Linked DNA regions of Homo sapiens. The protein of the gene in region 2 interacts with the protein of the main gene of each other region in a biochemical or structural test. Each region holds a gene or a part of one and is shown on either strand. Other genes may lie near its edges.

Region 1 (3,725 bases), on a different chromosome or scaffold from region 2:
CAGGAGGCTATAATCCCAGCACAGGGGCCTGAGGTGGGAGGATCGCTGAGCCCAGGAGTTCAAGACCAGCCTGGGCAACATAGGGAGACCTTGTTTCCACAAAAAATTCAAAAATAAGTGGTGGCTCTTGCCTGTAGTCCCAGCTACTCAGGAGGCTGAAGCAAGAGGATCCCTTCAGCCCAGGAATTCAGGGCAGCAGTGAGCTGTGATCACACCACTCCACCCAGCCTAGGTGACAAAGCACGATCCCATCTCAACAATAAAAAAATAAGTGGGCAGTGGCATAGGGAAATACGTTACCTCTTCTTGTTAAGGACATGGGGACTAGATCCTACTTGGAAAGTCACAGGTTTTAAATTGCCCAGAAAGCACTGGATTTTAGAAGAAGCCTCCAACTGCAGTGTGGCAGGAAGCCTGAGGACGCCAGGGACTCAGTCAAGGCAGACACACATGGAAGCTGTTGCTACAGTCCAGGAGCCATCCATGGTGGCCTGGACCAAGAATGGGGACTGGACAGTGAACATAAGTGGGCTGTTTCCTGGACTGCTTGAACTTGGAGGCAGATCAAGCATCGCTTACCCATGGTTTGGATGTGGCAGCTGAGGAAGAAAGTGGAGCCTAAGGCTCTAAGGGACCTTTTTAAAAATGATAAAGGTTGGCTGGGCTCGGTGGCTCACACATGTAATCCCAGCACTTTGGGAGGCCAAGGCGGGCGGATCACCTGAGGTCAGGAATTCGAGAAGAGCCTGACCAACATGGAGAAACCCCTCTCTACTAAAAATACAAAATTAGCCGGGCGTGCATGCCTGTAATCCCAGCTACTCGGGAGGCTGAAGCAGGAGAGTCGCTTGAACCCGGGAGGCGGAAGTTGCAGTGAGCCGAGATTGCGCCATTGCACTCCAGCCTGGGCAACAAGAGCAAAACTCCGTCTCAAAAAAAAAAAAAAAAAAAAAAAAAAAAAAAAAAAGATAAAGGTTGTGTAAAAACCTTAACAATAGTTGCCACTCAGTGTCAAGGATAAGCTGCTATGAAGGTTTTGACTGTTATGATAAAATGTCATTATCACTTCTTTTACTATTCTGTCCTAAGTCTCTATGTATATGAGGAACAAAACTACTAATATAAAGGCAACCAGCTGTGTCTAAAATCCTCTAAACTTCCTTTCCTGAATGACATCTTTAGCTGAGAAAGGCTCAACCGGGAAGAAATTCAAGGTACTGGCATAATCTGATACTGACTGAAATTTTATTACCAATCACTATTTGTTACAAATCTATGTCTTATAAGAATATGATTATTAAACTACAGAATTCTTAAAGTGCAACCTTATATTTAAGCTTAGTGCAATCAAAAGATAAAATCGACTCCTCTTTAAGTCTTCTGATTAAAACTTTTACTTAATTTATTCAAATAGGTAAAAGAAAAAGGTTATTCCACTCCTATTAGTGTATATTCATTCCTTGTCCACGCTGCGCTTCCACAAACCAAGTCAACATCTGCACTGGGCAATGTGACAGCCTTTCCATGGCCTTTCCCTCATGAAGAATGGAAGCCGTATTTGGCCACAAGTCTTGACTGATACTGCTGGAGAATTTCTGGTAGTTACTACTTCTTTGGAATTTCTAACTTTATATAATTAACTGCTCAGTTCAACCTCTTTTCAATCATCGAGCAATGTCATCACTCTAGGAAACGAACATGAGTCGGCTGGAAGAAAGTTCATGCCATTTCTACATTGGATTTCCCCCTAGCTCATGATGCTACAATTTTTTTTAACCTATCTGTGCTTCCCCTGCCCTGTCCTGTAGAAATAACCACAATGAAAGCAAATAACTTATGTTGCTATTATGTTCTTCATTTTTCCATTAAGAGAACTTTAAGACGGAGTCTTGGCTCTGTCTTCCAGGCTGGAGCCCAATGGTGCAATCCTGGCTTACCACAACCTCTGCCTGCTGGGTTCGAACAATTCTCCTGCCTCAGCCTCCCAAGTAGCTGGGACTACACGTAAGCACCACCACATCCAGCTAATTTTTTTTTGTTGTTGTATTTTCAGTAGAGACAGGGTTTTGCCATGTTGGCCAGACTGGTCTCGAATTCCTGACCTCAGGAGATCCACCCCATCGGCCTCCCAAAGTGCTGGGGTTACAGGCGTGAGCCACCACGCCCAGCCAAGAGAACTTTTTACTTACTTTTTGAGGAGAGTAGGGTAAACTTTAGTGTTACTTCCTGAAATCTATAAACCAAAACTTAAAAGCACAATCAACAAATCTAGAAACGCTAGGAATTTCCTCACGTTAAAAAAATAAAAGATCCAAGAAGCTCAAAAAATAACAACTTTCTGCACTGCCTTCTTTTAAAGACACGTTGATCTCAGGACAGAAAAGCCAAACTCTTCCAATGACAATTACAATTGCAAACCAAAATACAGAGCATATATTGCTGTCTAAAAGTGAGTAGATCTTGGCCAGGCGCAGTGGCTCTTCCCTGTAATCCCAGCAAGAGGCCAAGGCGGGTGGATCACTTCAGGCCAGGAGTTCGAGACCAGACTGACCAACACAGCGAAACTGCATCTCTATTAAAAATACAAAAAATTAGCTGAGTGTGGTGGCAGGCGCCTGTAATCCCAGCTACTCAGGAGGCTGAGGCAGAAGTATCGCTTGAGGCCACGGGGTAGAGGTTGCAGTGAGCTGAGATCGCATCACTGCACTCCAGCCTGAGCAACAGAGCGAGACTCTCTGACTCAAAAAACAAAAAAAAGTATGTAGATCTTAAGGACAAGGCAGTAGAATTTAGTAACTGTCAAATATATATTCCTACTTATTGAATAAATTAAAGACCTCGCATGAAGGTCCTCGATTTACACTGACAAACAAGGTATGGGGATTCTGTAACGGTAGGCCTTATATATAACTGCGTTAACTATGCAGATAAAATCTGTCCAGAAAAATACACCACTAGAGTAGTGCAGTGCTAAATAAACACAAAACCCAATCTAAAATTATGATGTTCTACTACCAATATCTGACTTCACAATCAATGTAAAGAAAGCTAGCCATAAGCCAGGCACGGTGGCTCATGCCTGTAATCCTAGCACTTTAGGAGGGCAAGGTGGGCGGACTGTCTGACCTTAGGAGTTCAAGACCAGCCTGGGCAGCACAGTGAAACCCCGTCTCTACTAAAATACAAAAGAAATTAGCTGGGTGTGGTGGCACACGCCTGTAATCTCAGCTACTCAGGAGGCTGAGGCAGGAGAATTGCTTGAACCTGGGAGGCAGAGGTTGCAGTGAGCTGATTTCGTGCCACTGCACTCCAGCCTGGCGACAGAGCAAGACTCTGTTTCTACCAAAAAAAAAAAAAAAAAGCCAGCAATTATTACCACTAGAAGCTTCAAAAAATTAAGATAGTGCATAAAGTTTCTCACTTAGGCTGAAGACACTATGTACAACTGAGCTGAAGTCTGAATCCACCCTTCCAGAATCAAGGCTAACCCTGGTGTAGTTGATACAAGCCAGCTGAACACACAAGAGTTCAAAAATAAGAATTTATATGTAACTGCACACAGTCCCTATTCTTTTTCAAAATCAGGCCGGGCATGGTGGCTGACGCCTGTAATCCCATCACTTTGGGAGGCCGAGGCAGGTGGATCACCTGAGGTCAGGAGTTCCAGACCAGCCTGGCCAAGATGGTGAAACCTGTCTCAACTAAGAATACAAAAATTAGCCAGG
Region 2 (3,725 bases):
GGGAGCAGAAGGCGTCAGAGGTAGCCCCGCCCACTCCAGCCCTGCCCCTCACCTTCTGGTCCCTGGGTCTGCAGAAACAGGAGGCGGGGTCAGAAGCGCTTAGAGGTAGCCCCACCCATCCTGCCCCACCCCTCACCCTCTGGTCCTTAGGTCTGTGGGAGCAGGAGGTGGGGTCAAAGGCGCTCAGAGGTAGCCCCGCCCACTCCAGCCCCGCCCTTCACCCTGGGGTCCCTGGGTCTGTGGGAGCAGGAGAAGGGGTCAAAGGCTCTCAGAGGTAGCCCCGCCCACCCATCACCACCCCCTCACCCGTGTGTCCCTGGGCCTCTGGGAGCAGGAGGCGGGATCAGAGGCGCTCAGAGGTAGAACCGCCCACTCTGGCCCTGCCCCTCACCCGCGGGTCCCCTGGGCTGCCAGGGCTCAGGCCCGGCTGCATCTCCAACTCCTCCTCGGGCTCGTTCTCGGCCTCGTCCTCCCAGGCCGTCTCGCCCGTCAGCGGGTTGTAGAAGAACACCCTGCGGCTCTCCTCATCCCAGTACTGGCCCCACTCGGTCTCAAGGCTCACGTGGCTGTCCACCGAGGCAGGGGAGGTGGCTGGGCTGGCGGCACCCTCGGCAGCCTCAAAGGGCGACTCCCAGGTGGTAACTCCCGTGTCTGGGTTGTAGTAGTAGGGGCGCCCGGTGCCCGCGTCCGTGTGCGTCTCCCACACCGGGCTGGGAAGGGGGGCTGCAGCGGCGCCCGGTGAAGTGGCCCGGGGCTGCCTCTCTATGTTCGCGTACACGGGCTCCGGTGGGTCGTCCACCTGCGGGAGGAGAAAGGAGGAATTTTGTGTTTTCAGAAACCTTCCAAAATGGTAACAGAGGTCCCCTCTGGGCAGTGCGATTATAGGGGTTTATTTGTTTTCGCTTTATTTTCTTTAAACTTTTCTGCAGCCTCAAAATTTTGTACAACAAAGCATTTTAAAAATCACGTAAGTTCTTCTGCTCACTGTGACACCATCACTAAGCCGTAAACTCCTTGAAAGGGGAAGTGCCTGTTAGAAGTGGCCTCTTCTTGAGCTTTAGCCCCTTGGGCGACCTTCAGGAAGTCACACTACCTCTCTGCCTCAGTTTCCTGGGTGTAAAATGTCTGCTCTGTCCATTCCGGAAACTGTAGTGAAGAGTGAATGAGGAAATGCTCTTGAAAGTACTTTGTAAAGTATTTAGTGCCCCAGACGGGTGGGTCAATTACATTAATTATATTTATCAATAATAATAAAACATCGATAACCCAGTTCTCACAACTGTGCACTCACAGAGGCAAGTCAGAGGTTGGGCAGGAACTGAGAAGTGGTCTGGGGCGTGCCCCTGTTTATGGTGCCCATTCAGGGCCCTGCTGCATTCTTTTTTTTGAGATGGGGTCTAGCTCTGTCACCCAGGCTGGAGTGCAGTGGCGCAATCTTGGCTCACTGCAACCACCACCTCCTGGATTCAAGCTGCATTCTTACAGCTCCACTGAGAGCTCCCACCCCACCCCACTCTCAGCCCAGAAAGCTCTGGGATTGGAATCAGCACCCTGTCTGGATTTGGGGACTGAACTTTCCAAGGTGAAGTTTGCAGGTGTCAGAACCAATTCCAGACAAGAGAGGGAGACAGGACAGCCAGATGGGCTGGAGAATGGAGGGGCAAAGAGAGGTGAATTGTTTTACTCCACCCCAAAGGAGAGTGAGGGCAGCTGGGGGTTCAATCACATAGAACATAAACCTAGCCATGCGTAAGCCTCCCGGAACAGAGGCTCTCCTGATTCACACCTCAGAGCTCCCTGCTGGCTGCAGGGCAAAGTCTAAGCCCTTAACCAGGCACAAGAGACCGTCCCTCACCGGCCTGTGCTTCCACTATTATTTCCTGCCACTCCTTGCCCCTTGCCTTGAACTTTAAGCTCCAGTAGCACCAGTTGCTAGAGGTCCCCACCGTCCCTGCTGTGTTTCCTCCAGGCCTAGGCTCATCTGCAGCCTGCCCAGGCCCATCTCCACCCCTTTTTTTGCCTGGCTGACTCCAATTCCTTCTTCAGGATTCAGCTGAGGTGCCAGGTTCCAGCCTTTTCCTGAGATTCCCCCCATCCCCGTGCCCCCACATTCAGCCCAGCACCCTTGGCCCCACAGAGGGACAGATGACTACATTCTCAAACCCCAGGCAGCAGCATGGCATACGGAGATTACTACTATTTTCTTTTCTTTTCTTTTTCTTTTTCTTTTTTTTCTTTTTTTTTTTTTGAGATGGAGTCTCGCTCTGTCGTCCAGACTGGAGTGGAATGGTGTGATCTCGGCTCACTGCAACCTCCGCCTCCTGGGTTCAAGCGATTCTCATGCCTCAGCCTCCCAAGTAGCTGGCATTGCAGGCACGCACCACCACGCCTGGCTAATTTTTGTATTTTAGTAGAGATGGGGTTTTGCCCTGTTGGCCAGGCTGGTCTTGAACTCCTGACCTCAGGTGATCCGCCCACCAGGGCCTCCCAAAGTGCTGGGATTACAGGTGTGAGCCACCGCACCTGGCCAATTACTACTATTTTCTAAGCATACACAATACTTCAGGGGAAAGCAGATTTCCACATTTCAATTTTGTGTTTTCGGAAACTTTCCAAAATGCTAACAGAGGTCCCTTCTGAGCACTGTGATTATAGGGGTTTGTTTTTGTTTTGTTTTCTTTGAACTTTCCTGCAGCCTCAAAATTTTGTACTACAAAACTTTTAAAAATTCACAGAAGTTCCTCTGCTGACTGTGACACCATCACTAAGCTGTAAACTCCTCGAAAGAGGAAGCACCTGTTCAGGGTGGTCTCTCCCTGAGCCTTAGGCAGATGCCAAAAAAAAAAAAAAATTCATTTTTCACCAAACTGATGCCAAAAAAGCAAACCAAACCAAAACAATGAAAAGAAGAAGGAAAAGAAGAACATTTGTTTACCCAACAAAGATTCACCTGCTCTGTGCCAGGCACTGTTTGAGGCACGGGGAATACAGCAGGGAAGAAAGGGACACAAATCCTTCCCTGGCAGAGCTGGCACTCAAGTGCACCTGTGTGTAAATGGTGGGGGTGATGAGTAAATGGACAGCATGTCAGTGCTGATCACTGCTAAGCAAGAAATGAAAACACTGTCAATGAAGAGGATGTTACAGTTTTAGACAGGGTGCCAGTCCCCAGGCGCCTGGGGGACAGGGAGAGCTGGGGATCCCAGCCCATCAGTTCTTCTCTCCTCTCCCCTTCCTCCAGGCTGCTGTGTGGCTGAGAGGGGACCCTCCACCCCACTTGTCCTTTCTCTACCCCCACCATAGCTCTGATGTGGCATCCTGTAGTCCAACCACAACAGGCCTCTCACCGGCCCCCAACAGAAAAGGCATCCTCCCACCTCGAAGCGTTTGCTCCAGCCATTCCCTCAGCCTGGAATTCCCTTCTCTGGTTCTCTGCCTACCCAAATCCTGCTCTCTCACGGTGCTCAGCTGACAAGCCTCTCCAGGGAGAGGTCAAACCTGCTGGCACTCTGCTCACTGCTCTGTTGAGGCCCAATGGCGTTCTGCCTTGGTGGGCAGCCAGTTGTCCAACCATCTGCCCACCTCCTCTGCCCCAAAAGGCAGGATTTTCTTGAGAGCAAGACTAAGGATAATGTAGCTGATTCCATTTGCCCCCCAGCAGCTGGGCCAATGCCCTGAAGCACATAGCAGGTCTGCCACAAACTGCTTGTGTACACAAGTCTAAC
Region 3 (3,500 bases), on a different chromosome or scaffold from region 2:
ATTACACTAGCATAAGTAGACTTTGGAATGGAAGCCAGCTTTTCTGATTCTTAGTCTAGTTTTGGATATGAACAATCTAGTAAAGGAGGGTTGTTTTTGAGTCTCTTAAGTGTGATTTAAGAAAATAATCTGTTTGGTTTGAGAGCTTAACCACATTCATTCAATTTCTTTGTTCCTGTTTTTAAGAACCGACTTTCCTTTAACTGTCATCTCCCTCATGCCCTTGCTTCTCTTCTTTACATTTAAATAAGCTCTGGAACAATCTGTTAAAACATAAGTCAGAAAATCAGAGTAGGTACCTAAAAGTTAAGTAGGGCTGGTCTTAAAATGTGGCATTCTTCTCCTAGTTGGAAAGCTTTGCTTTTCTTTTTATAGATATCATTTAATTTTAAAATTTTTACTGTAAATTGACAGATTATAGTTGTATATGAAAGCATTGCTTTTCAATTGTAAATTAATTCTAAAGACTCCAGAATTTGTGTTGGGTCTTTTCCCATTTAGCATTGTTAAACCTCCCATTTTCACAAATAACTTCGTACAACCGATATTAGCATATGCTTTACTGAATTTGATAAGGGTTTTATGGTCTATTTACATATTAAGCATCTTGTTAAAGAAGATGTCTTAGATCATGCAGTTTGTGCCCAATAACATGAATTTTACTCATAAAATTCCCAGCTGGCTGGGTGCAGTGGCTCACACCTGTAATTCCAGGACTTTGGGAGGCCGAGGCAGGTGGATCATGAGGTCAGGAGTTTGAGACCAGCCTGGCCAACATAGTGAAACTCTGTCTCTACTAAAAATACAAAAATTAGCTGGGTGTGGTGGCATGCACCTGTAGTCCCAGCTACTCAGGAGGCTGAGGTGGGAGAATCGCTTGATCCCAGGAGGCAGAGGTTGCAGTGAGCCGAGACCATGCCATTGCACTCCAGCCTGGATGACGCAGTGAGACTCTGTCTCAAAAAAAAACTTCCCAGCAAATAATCTGCCAGCTTTTTCTTGGACACTTTGAGTACTTTGAGGGAACCGTTATTTCTCTCAAATGGGCTTGTTTATAACAAGGCTCATCTTTTCTAGGACTCTGAAAGGAAGAAAGGTCATGGATCTAGGATATTTTATTTCTAGATGAAAAGGAAATGGTCTATGAAGAAGTAGTTTCTTAGGAATCAGATTGAATGTTGAGGTAGACCACTGTCTGAAAAGTTTCAAACTTGAACAGGTTCATTTTGTGTAGCTAGAGGACTCTGCTCCTGTGACACCTCTAAACCTTCTCTGGCTCTTTATCCAGGCTGCTGGGGTAGAGCAGAAATCTCAGAACACATCCTTTGTCTTTTTCCAGGAATCATTTAGCTCATGCAAGGACTGGTTGGCAAGATTGGTTATATAAGGATGATGGATGGACTAGGGGACGATTAAGTCTTAGCAAGGAAACACTGCCTTAGCTTAAGAGTTGTCCTGTCCCATTTTAACTCTCTCCTTGCACACTAACAGTGTTGTATTTTTTTGTTTTTAGGTTTTTGACAACTATGCAGTCACAGTTATGATTGGTGGAGAACCATATACTCTTGGACTTTTTGATACTGCAGGTGAAAACTTAATGTCTTTTATACTGTTTTGATCTTTAACAGTTGCTAGTTGTCTGTCTCTTGTGGACATTTTGAGAAACTAGCACATGAGCAAAGTACTTGCCTTTTGTTATTAGTTAGCAGGATTGAATATAATGATTGTCGATGCTTGACCAAGGAGCAGTCCCAGACCTGGGTCGGCAAATAGGAGTTTGGAGTACCCTGGGTGAACAGTGTAGTAGATGAAGTAGAGTGAGACTAGAGTGCATCATACAAGCTCCAAATTGAACTAAAATCCTGATGCGTGCACCTTGCAGAGAACTGGGGACTGCATTAGTGGTTGGGGAGGGACTAAGGGAATGAATTCATAGGAATCATGCCCACTGATTCTCTCCCTTCACCCCTACCTGCTCCTTTTTAAAGCCTAGAGTTTCCTAAATATGCCTAAGGTTATAAGGTCATAAGCCATTTACAGTATTTATTATTATTACTCTCTTGATATTTGAAGGCATATTCAATTTATGTGTCTAATAACATGTTTAGTTTCTTACGATAGATAGCTTATTTTAAACTGTATCTGAAAATATTTTGAGAGTGAACTATTATCTGCTCACAGTATTGACATTTGTCAGCTATCCAAATTGTAAGAACAAATTACTTTCTTCCTTAAATGTACCTAATTCCTCAGTGCTATTTCTTGTTTTCAAGAGTGGCTGCACATCTTAATTTCTGACTTTTCTCTATGTGCCGTCTTATTATCAGCTCAGTTAGCCAGAGGAAAATCTCAGAAAGATATCCTTTAGAGTATCTTTAGAATGTAGGAATTCTAAACTTTGTGCTTTGAGTTACTGTTACTGTTTGCAAGTTAACATGTTGCTTCCATGGAATGTGGTGTTACACTGTGTACCACGAGGAACTATTTGGATTTAATTGAGAACGTGAAATGGAGAGACAGTAAAGATTAGAGAAATTTTTAATACATTAAAATCATAAAAGTAATGGTATATTAAATTTGGAATATAGAGAAAACAATGACCCATAATGTCATGATAAATGAGGGGTTTTCTTCTGTGTTCATTTGTGTCCAAAGGCACAGAGAAAATTTTTATTTTTTTTTTTTGTTGAGATGGAGTTTTGCTGTTGTTGCCCAGGCTGGAGTGCAATGGTGCAATCTCGGCTCACCGCAACCTCCGCCTCCCAGGTTCAAGCGATTCTTCTGCCTCAGCCTTCTGAGTAGCTGGGATTACAGGCATGCGCCACCATACCCGGCTAATTTTTTTGTATTTTAGTAGAGGTAGGGTTTCTCCATGTTGGTCAGGCTGGTCTCGAACTTCTGACCTCAGGTGATCCGCCCGCCTTGGCCTCCCAAAGTGCTGGGATTACAGGTGTGAACCACTGCGCCTGGCGAGAAAAGATAATTTATGGCTACTTGTGGTTGAAAATTAGTATTTTCAGATTTCAAAGTTTATTATTTATAAGCCTTTACATTTTCTGGCGAGTACTTTTGAAAGCTTTTTTGATGCGTAGTGCAATAAAAATCATTTTAAGGCCAGGCGCGGTGGCTCACGCCTGTAATTGCAGCACTTTGGGAGGCTGAGACAGGCAGTTCACCTGAGGTCAGGAGTTTGAGACCAGCCTGGCCAGTATGGTGAAACCCCATCTCTACTAAAAATACAAAAATTAGCCCAGTGTAGTGGTGTATGCCTGTTAAGTCCCAGCTACTTGGGAGGCTGAGACAGGAAAATTGCTTGAACCCAGGGGGCGGAGGTTGCAGTGAGCCGAGATTCTGCCACTGCCCTCCAGCCTGGCTGACAGAGTGAGACTCCGTCTTTAAAAAAAAAAAAATCGTTTTAAGTGTTCAGTGTGATGCATTTTGCTGACCCTCCACCATAATAAAATGTGTAACATTTTTATCACCCCTCAAATTTTCTGTGG

What was found.
Region 1: of the proteins of ARHGAP27 (region 2) and RAC1, one has a biochemical effect on the other in vitro, tested with the Homo sapiens proteins (one study listed by BioGRID).
Region 3: of the proteins of ARHGAP27 (region 2) and CDC42, one has a biochemical effect on the other in vitro, tested with the Homo sapiens proteins (one study listed by BioGRID).

What each region holds. Positions count from the first base shown.
Region 1 is NC_000007.14:6,381,027-6,384,751, reverse strand, and holds part of RAC1 (ras-related C3 botulinum toxin substrate 1), read right to left. Parts: intron 1-3,725. UniProt on the Homo sapiens protein: Plasma membrane-associated small GTPase which cycles between active GTP-bound and inactive GDP-bound states.
Region 2 is NC_000017.11:45,405,285-45,409,009, forward strand, and holds part of ARHGAP27 (rho GTPase-activating protein 27), read right to left. Parts: exon of another isoform or gene 2,951-3,725; intron 800-2,950; coding exon 392-799; exon of another isoform or gene 307-391; intron 69-306; exon of another isoform or gene 1-68. UniProt on the Homo sapiens protein: Rho GTPase-activating protein which may be involved in clathrin-mediated endocytosis. GTPase activators for the Rho-type GTPases act by converting them to an inactive GDP-bound state. Has activity toward CDC42 and RAC1.
Region 3 is NC_000001.11:22,080,209-22,083,708, forward strand, and holds part of CDC42 (cell division control protein 42 homolog isoform 1 precursor), read left to right. Parts: intron 1-1,513; coding exon 1,514-1,586; intron 1,587-3,500. UniProt on the Homo sapiens protein: Plasma membrane-associated small GTPase which cycles between an active GTP-bound and an inactive GDP-bound state. In active state binds to a variety of effector proteins to regulate cellular responses. Involved in epithelial cell polarization processes.